Regions from separate parts of the Homo sapiens genome. Here regions 1, 2, 3 and 4 are each linked to region 5. Evidence: fine-mapped expression QTL. A gene starts in region 5. Each other region holds a variant in brackets. All regions are shown on one strand. Distances are from middle to middle.

Evidence for each region.
Region 1: its variant is fine-mapped to the expression of DHRS12 in whole blood (TOPMed, PIP above 0.99).
Region 2: its variant is fine-mapped to the expression of DHRS12 in whole blood (TOPMed, PIP above 0.99).
Region 3: its variant is fine-mapped to the expression of DHRS12 in lung (TOPMed, PIP 0.93).
Region 4: its variant is fine-mapped to the expression of DHRS12 in pancreas (GTEx, PIP above 0.99).

The regions. Positions count from the first base shown.
Region 1 is chr13:51,835,089-51,840,192 of GRCh38, reverse strand. It overlaps TMEM272 (transmembrane protein 272), which reads left to right. Exons shown (of 5, transcript NM_001351003.2): 2 at 1,640-1,720. The coding sequence starts at 1,663. Among named protein-coding and RNA genes, the nearest start is that of TMEM272, 7.5 kb to the left of the region's middle. The variant C/T (reference allele first, on the strand shown) is at 2,977.
Region 2 is chr13:51,847,453-51,852,556 of GRCh38, reverse strand. It overlaps a transcript of TMEM272 not described here. Among named protein-coding and RNA genes, the nearest start is that of TMEM272, 4.8 kb to the right of the region's middle. RefSeq lists an enhancer at 2,879-3,379. The variant T/C (reference allele first, on the strand shown) is at 2,725.
Region 3 is chr13:51,244,800-51,249,903 of GRCh38, reverse strand. The region is part of intron 2 of FAM124A (family with sequence similarity 124 member A); the gene reads right to left. Among named protein-coding and RNA genes, the nearest start is that of FAM124A, 25 kb to the right of the region's middle. The variant G/A (reference allele first, on the strand shown) is at 2,123.
Region 4 is chr13:51,779,526-51,784,629 of GRCh38, reverse strand. The region is part of intron 4 of DHRS12 (dehydrogenase/reductase 12); the gene reads left to right. Among named protein-coding and RNA genes, the nearest start is that of DHRS12, 22 kb to the left of the region's middle. RefSeq lists a silencer at 3,083-3,132. The variant T/A (reference allele first, on the strand shown) is at 2,360.
Region 5 is chr13:51,801,765-51,806,868 of GRCh38, reverse strand. DHRS12 (dehydrogenase/reductase 12) reads left to right here and starts at 2,706. Exons shown (of 9, transcript NM_001377533.1): 1 at 2,706-2,815. It overlaps LOC107984561 (a long non-coding RNA gene), which reads right to left and starts at 3,033. Exons shown (of 2, transcript XR_007063805.1): 1 at 2,068-3,033. RefSeq lists enhancers at 1,826-1,955, 4,341-4,390 and a silencer at 2,506-3,145.

The DNA of each region.
Region 1 (5,104 bases), 33 kb before region 5:
TGAAGGCACAAAGTCCAGGTTTCAGATAGAGTCTCGGAGGCCTCATTTCAAACCCCAGTTCTACCACTTACTAGCTGGGTGACTTTGAGCAAACAAATTGATCTGAATCTTGGTTTTCTCTGTAAAATGGGGCATACGAACTGAGGAGACTAAATTAGGTAACATGTGGAAGACCTTGGCAGGGCGCTGGTGATATGCCTCTGGTTGGGGACTGACTATCTCTGGTCACACTGCTTCCTGCCATAAAGGTCCTGTTGACATAAAGCCAAGTTTTGAGCATGACATGTCCTAGAAGGACAGTGATGGGAAATAAGAACCCCGAGTCTCAGCCCAACCACCGTGCTTGTGTGCTAGCAGTGGATCAGCTGCAGAGAGAAGCTGCGGGCTGCATGGCTCCTGCCTGCAGGCCCATGCTGACGCTGGCGGTGGAGTGACTTGCCTGCTATGAGCCACAGCTCTGGTCAAAGCAAGCTCTCCTTCTGTCATCATGACCATCTCTGTCCTCAGACCACAAATCTTCCCCATCACGGCCTGTTCCCCCTGCCCTAAGCCCTAGTTCACCCAGGAGGGCCTGCAGGTAGTGCTGCTAAAATGCTGTGGTCCCTTGGTTTGCAAACCCCTGCAGTATGAGGAACAAGGACCTTGTTAAATCGTGCTTTTAAATGGAGCCGCGGCTACTCTGGACAGGTTCCTGGGGAGACTTTTGTATGAAGTAAGGATGCCTGCCCCAGATCCCGCCTGGATCAGCCAGCCCCCATGGAGGCCTTACTCCCAAGCAATGACGTGGTGGGAAGTGGTGGAACTACGCACACCCAGCCTCAGGAACAAAGTGACTCCCTTCCTCTCCTAGTGTCTTTACGGGGCTACCTCATTTCACCGGGCAGGAAAATTTGCCGTCTTGATGAGCTGGAGTTTTTTTGTGGATTTAAAATGTATATGGCTGTTTCTTCCAAGGAAGGGAAGCCCTTTCTCACAGTGTCAACCAACTTGCTCAGACCACAGCAGGTCCACAGGGGAGCCGGGGTGGTGCTCCAGGCCGCTCGGGTCTCCACCCAGGCTGCTCTGGTCAAGTCCATGGTTCCTCTTCCGCTTGGACCCTGGGGAGTGCAGCAGCTGCGTCAGGAAGTGAGGGCGCCCTTGCTCTGTACCTGGAGCCATACCTGGATCAAGTTTGGGTTCTGCCAGTTGCCAGCTCTGGCCTTAGGGTGAATCTTAAGCTCTCAGGGTCTCTAAGGCGCCATCTGTAAAACAGAGTCAGTAACACTTCCCAGATAGGATTGTTGTGGGATTAAATATGAGATGACCTATTTAAAGAGTTAACACAACGCCTGGCTGCAGCCATTGCTCAGCAAGTGAGAGCTGTTACCATCTCCCCCTCCAGGCCTGTGTCTTCCTGGCTGGTATCACTGGGCAAGCCTCTTAACCTCTCTGAGCTTGGTTCTCTCATTTGTGGAATAGGGGGTCTTTTTCTCAGCCCCGCTAACCACTAACAAGGCCACACCTGACACTGGCACCCAGGCCACCCGGGCTGACTGAGACCACCCTGCAGGCCACCACTGACATGCACAGAGAGGGTTGGTTATTGGTGCTGAGTAAATCCTTCCACCATCCTTTCTAATGAATTATTTTTGATCCTCAGAACTTTGTCAGCGAGCAAGAACAATGCCAGGAGGTCTGGAGAAAACGTGTCATCAGTGCATTTCTAAAATCGCCAGCAATGGTGAGTCACAACTCTGAGAAATGCCCTGGTTTTGTAGGATTGAGACCTCTGGGATCACCCGATGAGCTAAAGCTGGAGTGGATCATATGAGTGGGCTGTGCTTGGTATGGGGTGGCCCCAGGGTGGTAGAGCTGGGGAAGACAGTGTCCGGCCCTCGGTTGGCTGCTTTCTCCTTCCATTCCTTACCAATTCATCTTTAGTTTTCCATAGTTCACTGTATGTGTTTTCCATGTAATATGTGTTTGAAAAATATGCATGTGAACGGAGTCACTGCTACAATCAGTGTATGATGGCAGCCGTGCTGGGCAACACGGCAGGGCAATGTGACACCTTGGACCTGGGTAGCTTTCCCTTACTCCTACCTCAACCTGTCTCCTTACTAAATTGGATATTCCCCCACTATCACCTGCTGGGGTCCTTTCTGTCCAGAGGGGCTGGACCATATTACAGAAGACCCAGTCTGTCTTGTGTTTGGAATATCCCAAAATCAGATCCCAGGCCTTGGGGGTCCCTGGGATGAAAGCTTTTACATCATGGTGAGATGTATGGTCTAACTTTTACAGATGAAATGTGGATAAAGGGAACATTGTGGGAAGCCTTAAGCAACTCATCTCCAGGCACTAATATCAGGAAGCTGCAGTCAGTGGGTAGTGGCGGACTAAGGTGGAGGGTCAGCAGAACAAGGGGCTGACAGATGGGTGCCTGGGCACCTTTCCTTACCTGTACTTACCATGTCCTAGCACACACTGTCCACCTCCCACTTCTCCTCCCATGACGTTTCCTGCACTGCTGCATGCCAGCACCTCCAGCAGTGCCTGACACACAGTAGGAGCTCAATAAATAGGCACTGGCTGACTAAGCAGGTAAATGAGTGAAGAGCCACCTCCCAGATACAACTGACCTTCTCCATTCGCTGATGGGCCCAGTGCCCATCTCATTCTCCTAACGCACAGCCCTGACATTTTACTCCCAGGGACAGCTCTAAGGGCCACCCTCCTTTCATCCCTGGAGCACACCTACTGCTGTGAGGGCCAGAGTGGGACAGTGGTGCTGGAGTCTCTGCCCAGGGCCTCTGATGCTCTGGCAGGATGAAAACTCATAGGTTTACTGCCGGCAGGGAAAGGAGACACCATCAGCTATATTGTTGCTCTACATCTTCGGGAAATTAGTTACCACCACCTCCCCCAACACACATCCTACCTGTTTATGCAACAGAAGTGCTGATGGCAACACCAGGTTGGCAAGAGAGGAAGTAT[C/T]ATGCTCAGGGTTTCCCAGAAAAAGGGATGTTTCCTGGCTGCACTGTAAATCTGCAGGTCAAGGTCTAGGCCAACCTTGGCCTAATGATGGCCTCCTTGATTGTTGAGATTTCTGCCCTTGTTGTATGAATAACTCCGTCTTCAGCCAGCACAATGGCAAGGCCTCCTAAGTGTTCTTGCTGCCTCTTGCCCATCCCCTCAGCACCTCCTCTGGGGAGGTCCTTCACTGCACAGTGACTCCCCATTCCTGCAGAATAAAACAGAAGCGTTTGCTCTCTTGTGAAACCCTTTGTGATTGAGTCCCCGTTTACCTCTTGAATCACTCTTTCTTCTTCCCTTCTCACTCTGGAAAATCCAGCCAGACAAAAACATTTTAGGTTTCCTAGGAACACCAGCTTCTGTTTTCCCCCTGGGCCTTCCAACATGTGTTTCTTTGCCTAGACTTCTACTTCCTCCCACCTGCCCCCTCAGATAAAGGTTGGATCAGGCAAGAATCATCAATAGACACTAAATCTAAGAGGAAATTTTGATGACAAGCAGTACTTGGTTGCAAGGGAGGAATAAAATAGTAATCATACAGTGGAGAAAGTGGGCCACACTTTGGGGTTTAAAGTGAACATTACCAGTGAGGGACAGGTGGCCGTCACCTATGCAGTAATCCAGCCAAGAATGCACAGCCTTTGTCCAAACACAAGGGAACATCTGTCAAATACAAGGTGAAGAATGTTCTACTAAAAAACAGCAGAGAGGACTGTATTCTTCAAAAATGTCAACATCCTAGAAAACAAAACAAAAAGGGCTGATGAGAATGTTCTAGATTTGAGGGAGGTCTCTTAATCCACTTTGTGCTGCTATAACAGAATACCACAGACTAGGTAGTTTATAACAAACAGAAACTTGTTGGCTTATCATTCTGGAAGCTGTGAAGTCCAAGAATGAGAGGCCGGCAGCTGGGGAGGGCCTTCTTGTGTCATCCCATGGAGGAAGGCAGCACGTGGGGGAGAGAAAAAGGGCTGAACTCCCCCTTTTATAATGAACCCACTCCAGTGATGACATGAACTCATTTACTCTGCTCCCAGGGCCTGATCACCTCTCATTTAAGCTCCACTTCCCAACACGTTTGCATTGGGGATTGAGTTTCCAACACATGAACTTTGGGGGACACATTCAAACCATAGCAGGCAGAGGAGACATGACAACAAATGCAATACTTCAGCCTAGACTGGACCCAAAGGCTTTATTAGGTCATCAACATTGGAATATGGATGGCAGATTAAAATATTGTATCAATGTAAATTTAAGAAGCTGCGACTGTACTAAGGTACTATATTAATAAGAGAATATCCCCAGGAAATGCACACTGGGATTATTTCCAACTAAAAAATTTAAAAACTTAAAAAGCATGCAGAGGGAAACCTGAGTGGCAAGTATCTGAATGTTTGCTCTATTACTCTTTGTATTTGTTTGAATGTTTGAGAATTTTCATAATTAATATGTCTTTTAGAATTTAGGCTGGGAAAAATTGGCCTCCTTGGCCTGATCCCAGACCTGATAAAATAGTACATAGATGCAAATGCATATACTGTAGTGTTTTCCTTTCAAATGACTTCTAAATTTACTTCTTTCTGGTTTTCTACATTTTCCACATTTCCTATAAAGCTACATATTTATGTAATTAGAAAATAAAAGTTTTGGCCGGGTGCAGTGGCTCACGCCTGTAATCCCAGCACTTTGGGAGACCGAGGCGAGCAGATCACGACGTCAAGAGATCGAGACCATCCTGCAACATGGTGAAACCCCGTCTCTAGCAAAAATACAAAAAAAATTAGCTGGGTGTGGTGGTGCACGACTGTATTCCCAGCTACTCGGGAGGCTGGGGCAGGAGAATCGCTTGAACCCGGTAGGTGGAGGTTGCAGTGAGCCGAGATTGCACCACTGCACACTCTAGCCTGGTGACAGAGTGAGACTCCGTCTCAAAAAAAAAAAAAGAAAGAAAATAAAAGTTTTATTTTTATTTTATGTTTTAAGAACAATCTTCAGATATCCCCCTTAGATTGGTTGGTGCTGTCCCTATCCACATGTGGAGCTGCTAAGTGGTGGCGGCCTCAGAGGAGTAGCTTGTTTATCT
Region 2 (5,104 bases), 46 kb before region 5:
AAAATTGCTCAAAGATGAAGACAATGACAACATAATCATCACTGCTCATGGCCTCAGTCTCTGTATTGAAAGAAGAGAACTGTTTCTAGCCACACCAGCCATAAAGGAATCATGCCCTGGAAGCAGGCTTTGTGAAAGAGGAGACTTTGTCATGTTCACTGCTATATCCACAGTGCCCGTTTTATAAAGAGCTTCTGAAATTGAGCAGACAAAGACCACCAACCCAATAGATAAATGGCCAAAGGATATGAACAAATTGGTTGCAGACAAATGCAAATGGCTCTTAAATATATGAAAAAAATTTTCAACCATACTTATAATTAGAGAAATGCAATTGATTAAGAAAACTGTTGCATTTCTCATCGATCAAACTGGCAAAAATCCAAAAGTTTGACAATACACTCTGTTAGCAGAGTTGGAAGGAAATAGGCCCTGCTATACAGTGCTGGTAGGAATACAAACTGTTATAACCCCCATGTATGGGGATTTGTCAGAAACTAAGAAAATTACACGTGAATTTGCCTTTTCACCCAGCAATTCCATGTCTAGAAATTTATCCAGCAGGTACATGTACACAATTACAGAAAGATACTTGTGTAGGTTATTCATCGGAGTATTGTTTGTAATTCCAAAAGATTGGAAGTAACTCAATTTTGTAGCAATAGGGAACCACTTACATAAACTGGCACATCCACAGAGCAAAGTACTATGCAGCTGTAAAAAAATATATAACAGGCTGGGCGCGGTGGCTCACGCCTGTAATCCCAGCACTTTGGGATGCTGAGGCAGGCAGATCACAAGGTCAGGAGTTTGAGAGCAGCCTGGCCAACATAGTGAAACCCTGTCTTTACTAAAAATACAAAAATTAGTTGGACATGGTGGCGTGCGCCTGTAGTCCCAGTTACTCAGGAGGCTGAGGCAGGAGAATTGCTTGAACCCAGGAGGTGGAGGTTGTGGTGAGCCGAGGACATGCCACTGCACTCTAGCCTGGGTAACAGAACAAGACTCCGTCTCAAAAAAAAAAAAAAAAAAAAGGTAAAACAAAGGTCTTTTCGTGCTGATTTGGAGAGATTCCCAGGATACATTATTAAGTGAAAAAAAAAAATGACTACAAATGTAGGGCGTCTTCTTCTTCTTCTTCTTCTTGTTCTTCTTCTTCCTCCTCCTCCTCCTCCTCTTCCTCTTCTTCCTCTTCTTCCTCTTCTTTTTTTTTGGTTACGGAGGAGGCAAGATGTCACTCTGTAGTTCAGGTTGGAGTGCAGTGACATGATCATGGCTCACTGCACCTTCCACATCTCAGGCTCAAGTGATCCTCCCACCTCAGTCCCCCAAGTAGCTGGGACTATCAGTGCACGCCACCACACCCAGCTAATTTTTGTACTTTTTGTAGAGACAGGGTCTTGCTGTGTTGCCCAGCTGGTCTCAAACTCCTAGGCCCAAGGGATCTGCCTGCCTTGGCCTCCCAAAGTGCTGTAGTACCTCTTCTTTTAAACAAATCTTAAAATTGGAAATGAACACATGAACATAACCATACATCAAATATATACCATACCCCTACAGAGGAAGGATTATGTCACATGATCCTAGGGCACACTTCTTTGACTCACCCTCCTTAGCGGGATATATTCTAAAGAGGAGAAGAACTTCAAATAAATTTGAAACTTCAACTTGGTCATTTTATTTTTGTAGAAGTGCTGTACTGTTACTTTGAAACATTTCTTTCTATTGTATGACAAAGCATATAAATACGTTAATAATGTTAGGATTCAAAATTTTCAGTATAAAAGAAAAGGGATACAATGATAAAAATCAAATAAATTACACAAAAGAGTATAGTATTAGATTTAAATTTTAAATATCAAAAAGTACTCATGATTTTAAAAATAGATATGGTATAGCTCTGTTTATTGAAATGGACCGGTAGCAACAATATCACAGAAGCAATGCATACCCCCTATCCCCACCTGAGAAAAAATTATTGGTAAAATAAGAATTAAAATATTATTTTAAATTTATTATAAATCAGCAAACATTATACTTGATGATAAAAGACTCAGGGCTTACTGTGTGCCCATAATTGCTCATTGATGTAAGTGTACCAGCTGACTGGTGTCTCCATTCTGACTGGGCAGGGCCCTTGTCTAGTTTTTACATTCTTTAAAAATATCCCAGAAGACATTATTAAAATAAAGAAGTGGATAGCATTCACCGTTTTGTAAATAATAACCAATTTATTAGGCAAAGAAATAAAACAAGTATAAATATTATAAGGAAATCATCATTACTTAATAGGTGATTTGGCTTAACACCTAATAAAGAGGGGGAGAGAGAAACAACGTAAAATTGTAGTTGATAATAGCAGTAGAATGCCAGTTCTCCCCAAATTTGTGTATAAACTTAATGCAATCTCAAACAAAATTACAGAAGGGTTTTTCTTTCCCCAGGGGAACATTTCAAGTAGCTGGGACTACAGGCACACACCCCTACACCCAGCTAATTTTTTATTTTGTTTTTTAGTCTCAATACATTGCCTGAGCTGGTCTCGAACTCCTGGTGTCAAGCAATCCTCCTGTCTTGGCCTTCTAAAGTGCTCGGTCACGGGCATGAGCCACTGTGTCCATCCTGTTTCTGAAAGAGACAGCCCAGGTCCCACTGAGAGACCACAGACGGCAGGAAGCGATGGGGAGGGAGGGCAAAGAGGCGCCAGTAGGTGGCGTTGTGCAT[T/C]TTCCCAACCCTGACACTTGCCCCTGGGAACTTAGACCCTCGGCCTTGGAGCCCAGGTTAAGGACAGGAAGACAGGAGAGTTATTCCTTTCCTCACACCCACTCCAAGGCGCCACTTCAGACCTGAGTAAAAGGGTTGAGGCGGGAAACCTGACAGCGGCGTGTCCGCGCATCCTCCCACAGGGCCTCTGCGACCGCTGAAATTGGGGCTGAAGAGACCCCGGGATTTTCTGGAGCATGTTGGACAACTGCCCGGTTCCACAGGGCCCTTAGAATGTTAGGCCTTGACTCCCCCAGCTTCTCAGATCCAGGAGTTTGTTTGCTTATTAAACTGTGCTAAAATACACATAACATAAAACTCAACATCTTAACCACTGAAAAATGTACAGCTCAGTAGTGTTAAGAATATTCACATTGTTGTGCAACCAATCTTTTTCATCTTGCAAAACTGAAATGCCACATCCCTTAAACAGCAGCTCCCCGTGCTCCCCTTCCTCCAGCCCCTGGTGACCACCAGTCTACTTCCATGTCTATGACTATTCTGTGTGCCTCACGTGAGTGGAGTCATACAGCATTCGCCTTTCTGTGGCTGGCTTATTTCTTAGCATAATGGCCTCAAGTTTGCAGCATGGGTCAGGGGTGCCTGTCATTTAACTCTTCTTCTTCCTGACTGTGAACTAGTTGTGGGACCATGCATTCTGTTTCTCTTTTTCTTAAATTGTCCTCAGGAAAATTAAAATGCTGGGAAAAGTCAAAAGGAAAATGAAAACTTATATTGAAATGCTTTTTGACTCAGGTAGAAGTCGAAGTGAGGGACCCTGAAGGTTTTCTCCCAAATTAGGAAGCCGTCAGGATGAATAGATGGTAAATATAGAAACGGTGACTCAAATAGAAGAGTGACATCAGAATGGAAAACTTCCAAAGAAAGCATGAAAAGAATTAGGATGTTTACATAGAACTAATTTGTTGGGGAATAACACACAAGCAAAGACGAAGACAAAGACAAACTTTTGTGCAATCTTGGGGAAGAGTGAGAGTGAACACTCATCAGTGTCCCTTGGCTTTCTGATTGCTCCTTTTGGAGGTGCACAACCTGGTCTTTGGGCAACTTTAGCATCTCCCTTCATTTCTACAGCTTCCATCAAGAAGTCAGGCCTACCCTCATTAACTCACAGTTGCCTTTGTAATTAAACTCAGGCACGTGCTCATTCACTCACTACTCTTTTGCATCAAAATTCCTTATAGGATACATGGATTTTATTAAGTAATCTTTTTATTCACAGTATCTGGCTTGGAGTCAGCAGTATTCATTCAATGAATGAATGAACTCACTTTTATGAGGAGAACCACCTCAACTAAAGACAAGCATTTAAAAATTTATACTCTGAATTCAACTTTCACTCAATTCTACTATCATCTCCCCTAATGTGCCCTTTATTCATATGGCAATAGTGGAGTGGTGCCATATGTGGACTCTATCACGTGGCCTGAATTGAAGTTCATTACACACTTAGTAGCCATATGCCTTTAATCTCTGTACCTTATGCTACTCATCTGTGAAGTGGGGGTATTAATCGCACCTACTTTGCTTTGGGCAGCATTTCCAGTGGTGGTCTTCCACTCACATCTCTAGGGTTAGCAACTGCTTCCACTGTCAGTTGCTAATCTCTGGGTTACTCCACCACGACATCGTGCATGACTTTTCAGCTCTTCCGTGGCTCTTGTAACTAATTCCCCATATCAGATTCCCCGTTTTTCTTAACTGATAGAGCTATTATTACTATCATTTATCATTACCTTTGGAGTCTCATAATCACTTTCCAAAGACTCCTACTTTCTCCCCCACAAAAATCTCCTATTTCTGTACTCATAAGTACAGTTGTCTGTTGGCAGAAAAATATTCTTTGATGTTTTGCTGCATGTTTGGGGACATGTGGAAAAGCTCCTGAGTGACCTGCCATTGTTTTCTCCCTTCCTGAACTCCCAGGAAGACTGCCTCATCACCTGAAATTTTGTTTGTTTTGATGTCAGGGCTAAAATGTGCTCAAAAAAGACTGCTGCCCCTTTTTGGCCACGTCCAGGCCAGGCTTATGGTCACCGTGTGCTCCCAGACCCCCACCACTTTGGCAGGGAAGCCTTAAGACTCTGACCTCACTGCTCACAGTCACTCTGCTTCCACTCACTCAGTGTGAGATAAGAGAAGATTCAAGTACCGTCATGTATCACTGAACCATGGGTATATGTTCTGAGAAATGTGACATTCGGCAATTTTGCCATTGTGTGAAGGTCATAGAATGTATTCACACAAACTCACATAGTATAGCCTACTACACACCCAGTGGTCCCCAATCTTTTTGGCACCGGAGACCAGTTTCATGAGG
Region 3 (5,104 bases), 560 kb after region 5:
CATGATATGCTCCCTGAGAACTGTGCAGTGCACAACCTGCACAACCATAGGCAGCAGCCCTCTGAAGACCCATAAGCCCATAAGATGAGAACTTTGTGACTGAGTGGGGAAACACAAACATCAAAAAGTAAAATTAAATCTGATATATGCCTAAAAGGAATACAACGGAATAGTAACTTGGGGTGGGGGCTAGATTCTAAAGTCACTGTGAAGCAAAGGTTATCTATAGACACGATTAACACTGAAAGTCTCCTAAATTTCCAATAAAGTACTAACTTGTAACAAGACAAGATGGCCAGATAGATGTTTCTTTAGTTGAACACCACATAAAATAACCATTTTGCTGCAGGGCCATGTATAAGAGAATAGTCTGTTTCTTTAAACACTGAACCCTTACTCATCAAACCCTGCCCTTCACTCTACAAGAGGCTTTTGGGAACCTGAGAGGCTTCTGGAAGTTAAGGATGACTAAGGTAAGAGCGGAGTCAAGTTTCAGCTTTCCACATTCATGGAGTAGAATGGCAAGTGGAATCCTTTAAATTGTCTTCCCTCTTTTTCCTTCCTGCTGGCTGAGCATGTATTCTCAAATTTGTATGAGTTAAATATGAGCATAGAGCAATTCCAACTTACTACATATGACAAAAGAAGGAGGGCTCTGCAGAAGGCTTCCTGGAGGAGGCACCAAATGAACTGGGTCTTGAAGGGTAAAGGCAGAACACATCCTCTTGCTCATGATGCCCTCAAATGCTGAGGAGATTAGGAAGTGTTTACGAAGGTATAGAACTGTGCAAAAAACAAGCACATTTGGAAGGGGGCCGTGGGGAATTCTGGGACATGGCAACAGATGCAGCTGGAAAAATGGATTAGAACCAAGCTGTATGGGGCCTCAGCTCAATTCAGTAGTTGATAAGGGGCAAAGGAAGGTTTTATGAAGGGGTATCAGGATCAAGTTGGGGGAAAGTTGGCTATAGGCAAAATAAGGAGTTAGAAGACTAGTGAAGAGTCCAGACAGGAGATGACAAGGACTTGGCAGAGTAGGAGATTATGTTAGTGGCTTCAGTTCCTTATCCTATTATGTATCCTTACTTTCTGCCATGTGACTGTGTAGCTCCTCCCACTAAATGGGTGGCGTATTTCCCCACCCTTTGATTTAGGATGAGACTATATGCCTAGCTTTGGGCAGGAGAAAGAGACAGCAGTGGCATGTGTTTTGGCTTGCCTCCCTGTGCTCCCAACATTTCCATAAGAACATACTTGGGGGAGCCCACCGGTCCCAGTAAGGGGATGAGACACATGGAACAGACCCACTCTAGCTGAGCCTGCCCTAGATCAGCCAAACTTCACACCCAAAGACGCAGGGCAAGAGCCACTCAGGTGAGCATGGTCTAGATCAGCTGATCCAAGACAAATGGGAAATAATAATGATGGTTGTTTCAAGCCTGAAACTGAGACTGGAGGTGGCTGTTACCCAGCAGTACTTACAGATCCAGGACAGTCAGTCAAGTGGGTAAATAGAAGAGGCATGGATTCACAGGCTATAAAGATGCAAATGGCAGGCCAGGAAGCCCACAGGCCTGGTGGGTGGGGTGTAGGAAAAGTTGGAGAGGAGTATATACCCTGATGTTTCCAGCTTGAACAAGTGATCTGATGTGATGTTTAACTGAAATAGGAAATAGAGGAAGAAGGGCAGATTTGTGGGAAAAGACAGAAAGTTCCACCTTGACCACTTGGCTTGAGATGCCCAAATGACTTCCAGGAGAGATGTCCTTTGGCAACTGGATCTTTGTGTTGCTTAGGTGAAGGGCTGAATTTAAGGATGGGCCAGTTACTTTCAGATCATATTCTCATTTGTATGCAGTTATCTGATAAGCGTGTGCCCCCATATAGACCTGAATCATGAAAATTCATCATGATGGCTAGGAACACAATCAGAATTCAGAGATAATTCTGGCCCTTTTCTTTGCTTGCCCTTTCTGCCTGCCTGGCTTCTTTCGGTTTGGTTGAACATTCATGACACGATCGGCAGAAGTACAGTTGACGCAAAAGTAGTAAAGCTGCGATGAAATTTTCTGCCAGTGAGTAACTCCAGTAAAAGTAGGAGAAAATACCACATCATCTAAAT[G/A]GATTTCACTTTTCTCTGGTGCCTTGAACTCCCAACAGTGGAGACATGCGACTTTGCTAAGCATCAGTGAATGCTCCATGTAAATGGAAAAGGACAGAAAGGCTTTGAACGAGGGGTCAAGAATTTTACCTGAAAAAAATGACAGATGATTTTAATGAGGGGGGAAAAACACCATGCGAAGTAAAGGAAAGTCTGGGAAAAGAAGCTGCCTGGGCCACCAGGAAGTCCCTTCAAGGTCCTAATCCCACCCCCAGGTGTGCATGTGGCCAGGTACACAGGGTGACATGTTAGCTAACATGGGTGCTTTCTCCATGTTCTACATGTATGAACTCATTTAATCCTTACAACCACCATAGAAAGGGGAGGTGCTATGATTGTCCCCATTTTAGAAACCAGGAAATTGAGGCACAGGAGGTGAAGTAGCCTGCCAAGGTCACACAGAGTATGAGCACTAGCTCCAGTATCCGAGTTCCGTGTGCACCATCAGCCCAGGCTCTGCAGAGAAGTGTGCTCGCCTCTCCACTGTATCCCTTTCACAGCAGAGTGGCCAGCTGCCATTCTCCATCCATGTGTGGCCACGGCAGCTCCCGCCTGGCCCCTCTGCACGGCTCTCCCACCTCATTCTGACTGGCTTCATTCCCAGCCACCAGCCAACAGCTTCATTTCTTGGACACCCACTTACATTTCTTTCCTCTGGCCCCAGGTCTTGGAGGAAGAATAAGCTAGAAACTGCCCTCCCTGTTGGCACATGCCCAGGTCTTCACATCTCAGCAGTGCCCTCGAGGGCAACTCAAACAGGCCAGCACCACAGGTGGGTGCACAAGTGAAAGGAATGCATAACAGTCACCCAAGAAAGCCTATAGCATGGCGTGAGAGGCTTGGGTGTGAAGAGGCCCGGGAGAAGGTGGCTTCTGAGACTCTCCAGTGGAGCTGTCAGGGCGCTCAGCCCTGTGCCATCTCTATCAGTTACACAAAGGTTTCCCTGAGAGCAGTAACAAAGACCATGCTGAAGTCTGCATGGATGAGTGAATGTTTACAGCTCTGCAGAAGGGCGAAATGCCCGGCCTCAGAGCAGGGGGGTGAGCTGAAAGGCATTCCACCAAGTACCAGCTCGCCTGGCAGTTTGGGAGGCAGCCAAGAGCAGGCGAGCCAGGATGACGAAGACCCGACCCCCAGAGCCCCCTCTGCACTGCCTGAACCAGGGACATGTAAGTGGCTAAGACCCTGCCCCAGAAGAGCTAAGGAGAATGAGCAGTGGCATTAGCATGCTCTGGCCATCACTAGCACGTACCCGCTGCACATGACCTGAAAACACAAGCAAAGAACACAGAACGCAGCTTCAAGCTGTCATCAGGTGTTAGAGTTACACCCCCCCCCACCCCACGAGAAACATGCCTCTGTGGAGCTGGATAGGAAACCAAGCATTTGAGGGGAAGGACAGAAAATGTGAATAATTAATTGCCACGAAAAGTCTCTATGCCTCCCTGGAGAAACACAGACGACATGACTGTGGGATGTGCTCTGCCTTTATCATATCTATTACATGTCTTCTCAAAGGACCTAGCGAGCACCTGTTGAATTATGGTAAAACACAGACCAGAACCAAACAGAGCAGTGGCACAGACTGCCCCAAGGCTGGTGGGAGGATGGGAGCTGCTAGCACACCATTAACAAGGCTTTCAAATTAGTTTGTGTTTTCCTAAGGAGAAGGGAGATTCTTTTTCATTTGATTATAGACAATTAGGCTTTCCTTTGATAACACAAAATGAAAACAGTGTTAAAGAAAGCAGTGTACAAGCTCAGGCCTTCTATGATGCAGAAAGTGTACTATTAGCCTGGGCATTTGTTATATATATATTTTTTCCAACATTTTACCTCTCCTGTGTATCCTGTTTCTGGCCATTTAAATTTAACAGAAAATTAATTTAGACAATAGCAACCATTTATTATGCTCTTATTATTTGCCAGACATTGTCCTACAAGCTTTATGTATACTATCTCATTTAATCTTTCATTTAAAGCAACACTATGATAGATGAACTACTAACTGACCTGCTCAAGACCATTTGCCTGGAGAACAGCAAGGGCTGTCTGAACCCCGGATCTGTGCTCCTCACCACTATGTCCTCTCACTACTCAAGGGCACAATCCTCGTGATACAGGAGATGGAAAGAAATTATTTAGGCACATAGTGAGTATAAAAGAGCCCTTAGCAGAATTTTGCTTTTAACAAAAAAGCAGCCCCCAAATCATTTCTTTTCTAACAAAGAGCAGTCTGAAAATTCGAGCTGTAGATGTAGATAAGCAAGCTGGAAGCTTGCACAGATGAATGCCGGAAGCTGCGCCAATAGAAAAGGGCTACCTGAGGGCCAGGTATGTTCAACCTGGAGGCTCCATCTTCCCTTTTCTTTGTCACCGTGTGTACAGTAAAGGAACAGGCAACATGGCATCCGCCAGGTGGAGAATCCATCTGCATAATAAAAGATTAAAGTGGGGGGCGGCCAGATTTTCACATGCTGTGCAAATGGCACACCTAGTCCTAACCAGTTTTTTGCATCTTATGCAAATGGCACACCTGGTCCGACCAATCTTTTGTGCCCTATGTAAATCAGACACCACCTCCTCAAGCTCATCTACACAACCCTAAGTATTTTGTGGCAGACCAGACACCTGCTTGGGAGCCCTCTCTCTGCAGGAGATAGCCTTTCTCTTTCTTTCGCTTATTAAAGCTCTGCTCTTAATCTCACTCCTTGTGTGTCCACATCCTTGATTTCCTTGGCAGAAGACAACAAACCTCGGGTATTATCCCAGATGAACGATGCCACTTCACTTGGAATCATCGCGTTGGTTTTTCTGCCCCAAATTGGCTGGGGCTCTGAAATCATGGCTTAGCTCCTTCACCCACCTTAGGTGGGAGAGCCTGCTGTGAATGGGCTGGCTGTTTCGCCTGGGTGGGCATCCTCAGCTGGAGTCTTCGGAAGA
Region 4 (5,104 bases), 22 kb after region 5:
AGCTCACAAACCTTCAAGGCTCCCAGAAAGGCACAGAGCCTGGGAAGTAGCACTGTAGAAATGGCAGCTAATGTTGTTTTAACATCCAGATTCCTTAACCTGGAATTAAAGTCCTTTGTTACAGACCCCACCTCCTGTCCAAATGTATTTCCCATTATTTTCCTATATGGACCCTGTAGCAGTCAGCCTCTTATTTTGGAACTTGGCACTGGCAGTGCTACCTCTATGCTTTTGTCCTGCTGCTCCCCTGCCTGGAATGTCCCCTACCTGGCTAACTCATACTGCTCCTCTGTGACTCTGCTGGACACATTCCTTCCCCTGAGCCTGGTCAGATGCTCCCCTCTGGGCTCCCATGGACCCCTCTGTGTGCCTGTTGTGGCTCAGCAGAAGCCACCTGCTGATGGGTGGGTTTCTTGCCCAGAGCATGGATCCTTGAGGGCAGAATCCACCTGGCTCTCAGGAGGCGCTCAGTCACACTGGCTGCACTGAGCAGGGTTGTAGTCCAGTTCCTCCAGTTACCTGACTCTGTACAAATGTCCTCAACCTCCCCACGCCTTACTTTCCCATTCTGTAAAATGGGGATGATGATACTTTTATAGGCCAGAAGTGAAGATTTAAAAAAGACTTGTAAGATATTTAACCAAAGAGAAATAACCTGTGTGCACACAAAAATACGCACACGAATGTTTATAGCAGCTTATTCATAATCGCCCCAAACAGGAGTCAGCCCAGATATATGGTGAATAGATAAACTGGCACTCCCATTCAATGGAATGCAATTCAGCAATAAAAAGGCACAAAATGTCAATGTACAAAACAATGTGAGTGACTCTTAGATGCACCAGCCAAAGTGAAGCCAGACCCCAAGGGGTGCAGACTGTGATTCCATTTATAGGACATTCTGGAAAAGGCAACCTAGGGGGCTAAGAAGAGGTCAGAGGCTGCAGGGGCGGGATTAGGGAGTGGCTAGGGGCAGGAGGAGGGTGTGACGACAGAGGGAATGTGAGTGGCTGTGAGGGAACATCTGGGGTGATAGAGTTCTTCCGAATCACACCACAGTCTAATGCGTAGTTACATGACTGCATCTGTCACAGTTCAGAACTGTGTACACACACACACGCATGCACAGATTTTACTTTATGTTAAAACATTATATATATATTATATCAACAAGAAAAAAGAAAGCATTGTAACTTTCAGCTCAATGTCTGGCATGTAGTGAGTCTGTTTCATCCTAAGAAGCATATTATTCATTATGATTGTTTCTTGGTGCTCGTCCTCAGTAACAAGTGAGCTGCTGTTGGAGAGACTGTGTCCTCAGCTTGAGGTGGGGGCAGATTTCAGGCCACAGGGGAGGCTGGTGGAGTCTGGAGCTCCTAGGAACCCCATTTCCCCTCGACCACTAGAAGGGCCCCAGGCGAGGCTCTTGGTTTAAACTGTACCGGGGAGCCGTCCTAAGGAGAGAGAATGGACAAGCTCAGAAGTCAGAGATCATTTTTCCCATTGATTTTCGGTTTTCTGCCAGCCATGGAAGCTGCTTTTGATGAGACACAAAAGCTTCCCAGACTGAGCCTCCTGGGCCGCGCCGTGCACCCCGCTCTGGGCCGCTCTTCCTTCTCGGCAGCTCCATGGTGGTGCAGAGTCCTCGCCAGGCTCCGTGGTGTCTGCCCTTCTAGGTCTTCTGGCCTAGGAGCACCGGCCCCAAATCCAAGTCCTCCTGTGGGCCAGGACCTTACCTAATTACCTGGCTGGGATTTGGTGAGTGTTTTAAAGGTGTGCTGGTAACAAACATTCATTTGAGGAGTTTTAGAAACACAATCCCAAATAAGCACCTTTGTCCTTTTAATGAGCTGAGGCCCAAGTGCCCATACTCGGGTTCTCCCTGCAGTACAGCAGGTTCTTTCATACATCTCAGTGAAGCACACAGGACCCCCATACTGCGGCTGTGACAGCAGGGGGTGACATCAGTCACCTGGCTAGGCCCTGGAGAAAAGCCTGCACAGCACTTCCTCCACCAGCCTCTCATGGTCCCCGAGTCCCGGGCATCCTGCAGCTCACTCCAGTCGGCTTATCTCCCTGACCTTTGGCCACTCTCATGCTGAGGTCACCTATGACCCTGATATTCCTGGTTCTGGAGAGCGCACCTCTACCACATCCATGGGCAGCACTGGGCACAGCTGTCCGTGCTCCCATAGCGCGATGGCCTCCAAGCCACCTGTGATTCCACCCTCGGAGGTTGGCTCCTTCTCAACCTCCTTAGCCAGCTGCAGCGTGTCTGCGGGGACTTTAAATGTTGGCATCCCTCCCAGACCAATCCTGTGCCCTCCTTTCTCCTCCCACACTCTCTGTTGGGATCTCA[T/A]CCTTGCCCCAATGCCATCATGTGCCTGGCTCCCAAGGGCCCCCTTCCAGCCCAGATCTCTCTTCTGAGTTCCAGGTCCAGATCTCAAACACCTCAGACTCAGCATGTCCAAAACTGAAGCCTTAGTCCCTCACCGGTCTGCTCCTGTAATGGGCCCCACCCCAGTGGCCAGCATCATCTCCGTCACCGCTTGTCCTTGACACCCCCTCACTTCTCATATCCAAGCAGTGATCGTGCCTTTGGACTCTCTGCACAACGTGTCCCCAGTCTGTCTCCTGCTCTTCAGCTCCACTGCGACCACTCTGCCCAAGCCACTGCAGTCACTGTGATGTAGTGGAGTAATATGGGGCCCTAGGTGCCCTCCTGTACCCACCTCCCGAACAGAGGCTTCCTCCATAAGGCTGACAGAGTGGTCCTTATGCATGCAAATCTGTTTCCTTCTGCTTAAAGTCACCCCTTGGTTTCATATGAGGTGCGTGTCTCTGGCGTTGCCCTTGGAGGCTGCAGCCTCACATTGCCCTACCCTCTACCATGCTCACTCGGTTGCAGCTGCCTTGGTTGCACTCTCCAGCCTCAGGGCCTCTTTGCACAGGCTGTGCTCCATACCTGCAGCCCTTCTTCCCATCCCCAGCCCTCTACCTGCCTGTTCCCTCCTCTTCTCCAGGTCTTAGCTGAAATGTCCCTTCACAGTTCATGCAGAGCCTGACACCTCCCCCGCCGTCCCACCCCCATGTGCCCATAGCACTCTAGCACTTACCTCGACCGTGAGTGTAGGTTAGTCACGTAGTAACATGTGTAATGCCTGGGAATGCCTGGCAGAGGGCAGGGCGCCCTCAGTCTGTATCCTGAGTACTTAGCACTGGGTCTGGCACTCAGTGGGCCCTTGATAAATACTTGTTCAGTGCGTGGAACTGGATAAGGTGGCGGGGATGAGTTGAGGTTGGGGGCAAAGGGGATAGGCCTGACTCACGCTAACCACTCTCTGAGCCCAAACCAAGAATACCCCATAGGAAGCCAGTGCCTTGAATGTCTTCTAAGAGCTCATTTCCTCTGGGACTCTGTCCTGCTGTCTTCTCCAGGTAATGTAATCTTTGAAATCATCTTTATATAATGTGTGAGATTAGTGTGTGAGCCCCCCAGGCTCACTATGTTTTTGTTACTGTACAAAAGAAGTACCAAATGGTGTTCACCAGTGCAGCTGTCTGCTCCTTTAAAATTAACACCAGAAACTTCCCAGGGACAGCAAGACAATGGTTTTCTCCGTCAGATAGTAGCGTGGATGGAAGCACATAACCCATTGGCTAGTAACCAAAGTAGCTTTAATTCAAGGTGGCTTTGAAGGTTTCTTAATAGAAATGCCAATCAGTTTTCCTATGCTAAATTTACAAATTGCAATATATTTTTCTCATTAAAAATAATTACCTTTAATGCTATTAAAATGTCATACTCAAGATATATAATTTCAGAAATACTATGAATTTAGTATTTGGAGGATGCAGACATGGGTTTCGCAGTGCTCTAAGAACACGCGGCATCTCTCCTTCAGCATCACCTGTGCTCCACACAGTTTTACCTCTCAATTAGTTGATAGAGAGATTTGCTTCAAGTCATGTACCCATGTAATAAAAGTTCTTGTTGCCATATTTAGAAGACTATGTCCAACATAAATTCCACTGCCAGATCTCTTTCTCGTAATGAACCGCCATCGACATAATGAGTTCCTTGGAAGAAAGGCATTGTGTAAATTTAAAATACTAATGAGTCATAATGATAATGAATTATTTTCCTTGTTACTGGGAGCAGGACTAACCTTGGGCAACTTTTCCAGTAGCTGAAGGTGCCTTCCCTCCTCCCAGGCCTGCCCTCCCGTGGGATTCTGTACTCTAAAATATCTCTCTTTTTCTCTCATCAAAACCTTGAATCACCCAAATGTCCCTGATATTAATAGGAAGTCTTAGAGGAAAGGAAGTTGTTGACCTGGTTCACACGAAGATATGAATGACTAAAAGCACCCATTAACCATTTATAACAATGCCCCTCCTGTGTCTGTCCAGAGACATTCTTATTTATTTATTTATTTATTTATTTATTTTTGAGATGGAATCTCACTCTCTTGCCCAAGCTGGAATGCAGTGGCACAATCTCAGCTCATTGCAACCTCCGCCTCCTGGGTTCAAGCGATTCTCCTGCCTCAGCCTCCCGAGTAGCTGGGACTACAGGTGTGGGCCACCATGCCCGACTAATTTTTGTATTTTTAGTAGAGATGGGGTTTCGCCACGTTAGCCAGGCTGGTCTTGAACTCCTGACCTCAAGTGATCCGCCCGCCTCGGCCTCCCAAAGTGCTGGGATTACAGGTGTGAGCCACCACGCCCAGGAGACATTCTTATTTTAAAGGGTAGCTGGTTATCCCGGGAGAACTGGTGGACTTCCTAACTGAGACAAGCCAAGTGTCTTAGGTTTTGTGTGGTCAGAAGTAACAAGAACCCACACAGGAAGACTAAAGAAAAAAATAATTTATTAGTGGGCTACAAGGGCAGCCCTCACAGAACTCAATGGCAGAGACACAGCTGGGCTTTGGGAGGGCCAGGGACAGGACAGGAGAACCTGTCAGCAGCTAAGGTGACCTTCTGCTTCTCTGGGACTGTTGTCCATGGACTCTCATCACAACTGCTTCGTTCACTCTCCGTCTCTGCTTTTCCTTGCATCTGGGTCACATATGGCTGCCACTGAGTCACCTGTCCTCCA
Region 5 (5,104 bases):
CCTATGAGTTTATGACTTATGGTTATTCATCTTAATAACTAAGTGGCTTTGCCAGGTAAAATATTAAGGCACCATTGCCATTATGACCTTGTCTTCCATGATCTCATTGGCAGCTGGTGTTGCCATGACAACTTGGCTAGAGGAACTGGTATGAGCTTCAGTGGAAGGCGATATGAACACTGGTTGTGTGTGTGTGTGTGTGTGTATATGTGTGTAAGAGAATACAGACTTCTCATCATGTGTATCTGTTGTGCAGAAAGCCATGGGTTTCCACACCTTCTGCTTCTCCTTCCATTTTGGTCAAAATTAGCCTCAGGGATCTAAATCAATTGGAATGGAACTCTGGGGGATGATTTCTTTGTTTGGCTTTTTGAGTGGCAAATTGGAACCAGGAACACAGAAGAAATATTTTAGTGGCTTTCCACCCCTGGGAAATGAAGCAACCCTATCCACTTTGACGTTTCTCTTAAAAGCACCCTGGGCCTAACTTATTTAGCATCCATATGTAATTTTCTTAGTAGATGTATAGAAAGTTGGAGCTGAAAGGAGCCCTGGGTGGCGCCTAGTCTGGCCCCCTTTCTGTTCAGATGAGAAAAACTGAGGCCCAGAGGCTAAGTGACTTGCCCCCATTTAGTATGATGCAGCAGGGAAGGTGTGGGCTCTGGAATCATACTACCTGGTCTCAAAGCCTGGCTCCACCATGTATTTACTGTGACCTGAGTCAAGTTATGTAACCTCTCTCAGTTTGCTCATCTGTAAAATGGGGATAATAGCAGGAGTAACCATATGGATCAGTGTGAGAATTAAGTGCTATAATCCACAATGCTTGGCACACTTTAAGCCTTCTATACATTTTATCACATGGGTCACACAGGGAATAACTGGCAGAAATTGGACTAGAATCCAGCTCAGCTGACTCCAGTTAAACGGGAACATTCCCTTGTGAACTCCATACTGCCCTTTGTTTGTGTGTGTGTGTTACTTGGCATCCAGGTGAGAGTGGAAGCTCATTTTGAGACAGGGTTTGGCTTTTCCTAAGACCTCCTCTTTAAATGTATATAATGTATACACTAACTACCTCGTGGATGCTTGATTTGAGGCTAACACTGGACACCTCATGCCCTCATGGAAATTTCTTGAATGTACACTGCATGGCTGTAAGCGCAGGGGAAAAAGGAATGAGAAGAAAACTTAAGGAGGGAAACCAACACTTCTGATCACTTTGTATGAAACTAAGCTCTTTATAATGAATGCCTTTAATCACAACCACCCCACGAGGTGCGCATATTCATTCCCATTTTACATATTAAGAAACCAAGACTGAGGGTGTATGCAGCATGCTCAGGTTCACCTGGCTAATGCAGAGAGCTGGGTTTGCAGCCACACTTTTACTTCAAGGGGCTGCTGACACCCTCCAAGAGACTTGGTGGTTCAAAACTATTTCTCATCCCCTCTCTGCGAGCCAAAAGCCTATTTCCTGAGGTGTTCAGAGAGATTCAGAGCAGATTGACACCTTTTCCATCACTGACACAAAGAGGAGGGTATAAAAAACAGTATGTAGCCCTGGGGATCTAAAATATTTTCCCAGCCAAATCGGACAGGCATTGAAAGTCACACAGGCTGGGGTGGTTTTACAAAATGCCACTTGTTTAAATTTCCTTTCATCACTCTGTCAGGAATAACAGCAACGTAGTGGAGCCTCAGAGTCCTGTTGAGAGGGGCGAGCTGTTCCGGGGAAATTTATTTCAAAAGTTATTCTGAAGTAAAAACTTGCCCACTGTGGAGTGAGGTTGGACAGTGATCCTATATCCTAGGTAATGAGGCTATTAAAGCAGCTGGTCTCTTCAGCTTATGTAAGTGGGGCCCAGTCTCTGGGCGACTTGGGTAAACCGGTATAGAATTTAACAGGGTGACTAGGAGTGACAGCAGCAGTAAGACCCCCATTTCTAATGTGGCGTTAGGGCTGGAGGTTAGATGTGGACAGGGGTGTCTGAGTCCTACATAATGGGGCTGGATGACTAGTCTGAGATCTGGGTTCACGCAGCAACCACACTCTTTTTTACTCACACTGTTCATCTGGGCTTGGGTGGAAAGAGGCTGATGAGGATTTGGGGGAAATCAAGGGGCTCTCCCTGGCATTGCATGAAGTCGCAGAACCAGTGGCAAAAGTCCAACTTTGGAGACAATTACTTCTCGGGTGGGAGCCCCAGCCCTGCCTCTTGCCTGCGATGTCGCCAATCTGACTGCGCTTGCTGGAGACGGGAAATGTGGCACGGCACTGCATCCCCCAACACGTGTAGAAACTTAGAGAATGCCAGTTATTAAAATAACCCTTATGATAACACCAATTCGATGCAGAAGTCTTTTAAATATCATAAGCCTCGTCGTTTTATTCCACATGGTTTTCTAGGTAACCAAATTCTAGGAGGTGCGTTGCAGGGCCATCTTCGCATCCCGGCCATGCCCAGCAGGACGGTGTTCTCTAAACGGCGCTGATGCCCGATTTCGACCCCGAGGAGACTGCGGACCTCGACTGCGGCCCCCACCAGGGCCGGTCCGCCCTCACTCCACCCTCTGAGGCTGGGGCGGAGTCGACCGGCCGGCCCCGAGACCCCTTGCCTTACCGGTGGAGCAAGGAACCGGAAGCCGCGGCTCTTACATAACCGGGATGATGTCAGGGCGGGCGACTCCCGGGGGGCGGGACCAGGGCGGAGGCCGCGCCGGGAGCGCGGTGGGGCTAGGCGTGGGGCGCTCCCGGCATGTCCCTGTACCGCAGCGTCGTGTGGTTCGCCAAGGGGCTGCGCGAGTACACCAAGTAAGGCGGCGCGGCGGGGCGCGGGGCCCCGGGCTGTCACGTGGCCCGCCTCGGCGCGGGCGAGCAGGGTTGGCGGGGACGCGCCCGCGGCTCCTTCGCCCTCTCGCTGGGCCGACTAAGCGTGTCCAGAACGACGGGTGCGCCCGCCGTCTAGCGACCCACGGCTGGGCGTGGGGCAGTCGCCAGACTCCAGCCGCTCAATGCCCGCGACCGAGACTGGCGCCCGAGGGGCGGGGCTGTGGCGCGCCCAAGCCCAGGGCCGTCCCACTGACGTCAGGCGGCCCCGGCGCCAAGGAGCCTCTTGGGCGGCACCTCGGCGCCCCGCTGGGTGTGCTCGTGGAAGTGTCTTCGTGGTGCTGCTGGCGGCGTCAGATAGGGCTGGATCTAAATCGCTAGCTAAGGCTCTGTCCTAGTGCCTTTGGGTGTGTTTCCTTTAAAAAGATGCAGCACCTGGACTGCGACCTTTGGCTCCAGCTGGAACTTTCCAGCCAGTGTGTGCTTCTGGGGAACGGTGCGTGGTGGTTTCGTCGCCCCGTGACCACGCTCAGTGTGCCCTAGTTGGCTCTCCACCTCATTGTGGTTTTAAGAGGTGACAGGTTCCTGTGACGGAGGAGAGATGGAGGTTTTCTCTTAGAATTGATTAGGCTAACCGCTGGTTCTCAACCCTGTCTGCACATCAGAATCACTGGGCGAGAATTAAAAGTACCCAGTTTTCAGGCCCCATCCCTACAGATTCTGATTTAGTGGATCTGCACAGGGGCCTGGACTGGCATTTCATCCAAATGCCCCAGGTGATTCTCACCTCTGAGAGGCTTCTCCCTGCACTGGGGCTTTATCAGTTCCCACGGCAACCTGGCCAGCACTCCTAGGGGAGGTAGGAGTTGCAACTCCCTGCTCTTCACCCCACATCGTTTTGGAGAAGGTTCAGCTCTGTCTCAGGAGCCCCTGCTGCAGAGAATGGTGGGGAGTGTAGTCGTGAGCCCTGTCCCACAGTTTTTAGGGGAATACAGTGGCAGCCTCTTTCTTTCAAAGGGGTGTCCTCTGGCAATGACCATTAATTGCTGGATCTTTCCACATTACACAGCATGAAAGCTTAAGTCAGTTTCCAACCAGGGGTGGGCCCCAAGGAAAGCAGACTGTAAAAATTTCTCCCAGGACTCTTTCGCTCTGATTTCCCCACCTTGAGGGAAGGTAGAAGTGAGGCCAAGGGGCCCAATCCACCACAGATTGGTGGGGGAAGGGAGGGGAGGGGAAGGCAGTTGGCAAAGTTAGATGGGTTTTCCTGCTGTTGTGGATTTAGTGAATAGGAGAGAAAAACAACAACCTTGTTTTGACTTCAGTGTGAGAGCGCGGAGTTAGAGTTTACAACGTTTCTCTTGGCACAAGGATTTTTATAAAGCCTCCCTATATTGGGCTCCTAAGGCAGGAGGATCTAATCACTGTTTCCTAAACTTTGCTGAACCTAATAATTCCCTGGGGCAGTTTTAAACAGACTCCTAAACCCTGGGCAAGTGTGGATGGGTCCTAAGCAAATTTCATATTTGGGTAAATTGAGGGTGTGGGGAGACACAGATACCTGCCAGCTTCCTCCTCCCCATCCCTGTCACCTCAGCTTCAGGAAACAGTAAGTACAAATGTCCTCTCAGCTTGAGTCAAAATCACTGGCAAGGCACATGAAACCACAGGTTGCCAAGCAATCACTTCTGAGTCAGTAGGCAGGGCATTTCCAACAGGTTTCCAGATGATGCTGATGCAGCTTGTCTGGGGACTGCCCTTTGGCACCGAGGCTGGGTGTTGAAGAAGATCACCTACCTTCTGGTGACCTTGGGAAAGTCGTGTGTGTGTGTGTGTGTGTGTGTGTGTGTGTGTGTGTGTGTGTGTGTGAAAAATAGAGACTGATATCTAGAGACTGATTTCTAGAGTGAAAATAAAATGCTTCCCCAATAAGGGGCAGAGTACATAAAAGACAAGTCTTATTAACAACAGATCGGACCAGGATGGAATTCTTGTATGGAAGGCAAGATCCAAGGCAGAGGACAGAGGGCGGGGACATGTCCTGCAGGCCAGGCTGGTACTGCCCGCTTGGCAGCACTCCCAGTCTGGAGTTTGAGGAAGAGGTTCAACCCAGAGGAGCCAGCCTCAGCAAACATTCGTCTCTAATACGGATCAGTGTGGAGCCCAGAGGCTAATGTCCCCTCTGACTGGGTATCACAGAGAAAAGCCTGTCAGCTTCCTGCCCCTGGAGAAGGGCTCTTCAGGCCTGTTCCCTGTGGACTGCTTTTTTTCTGG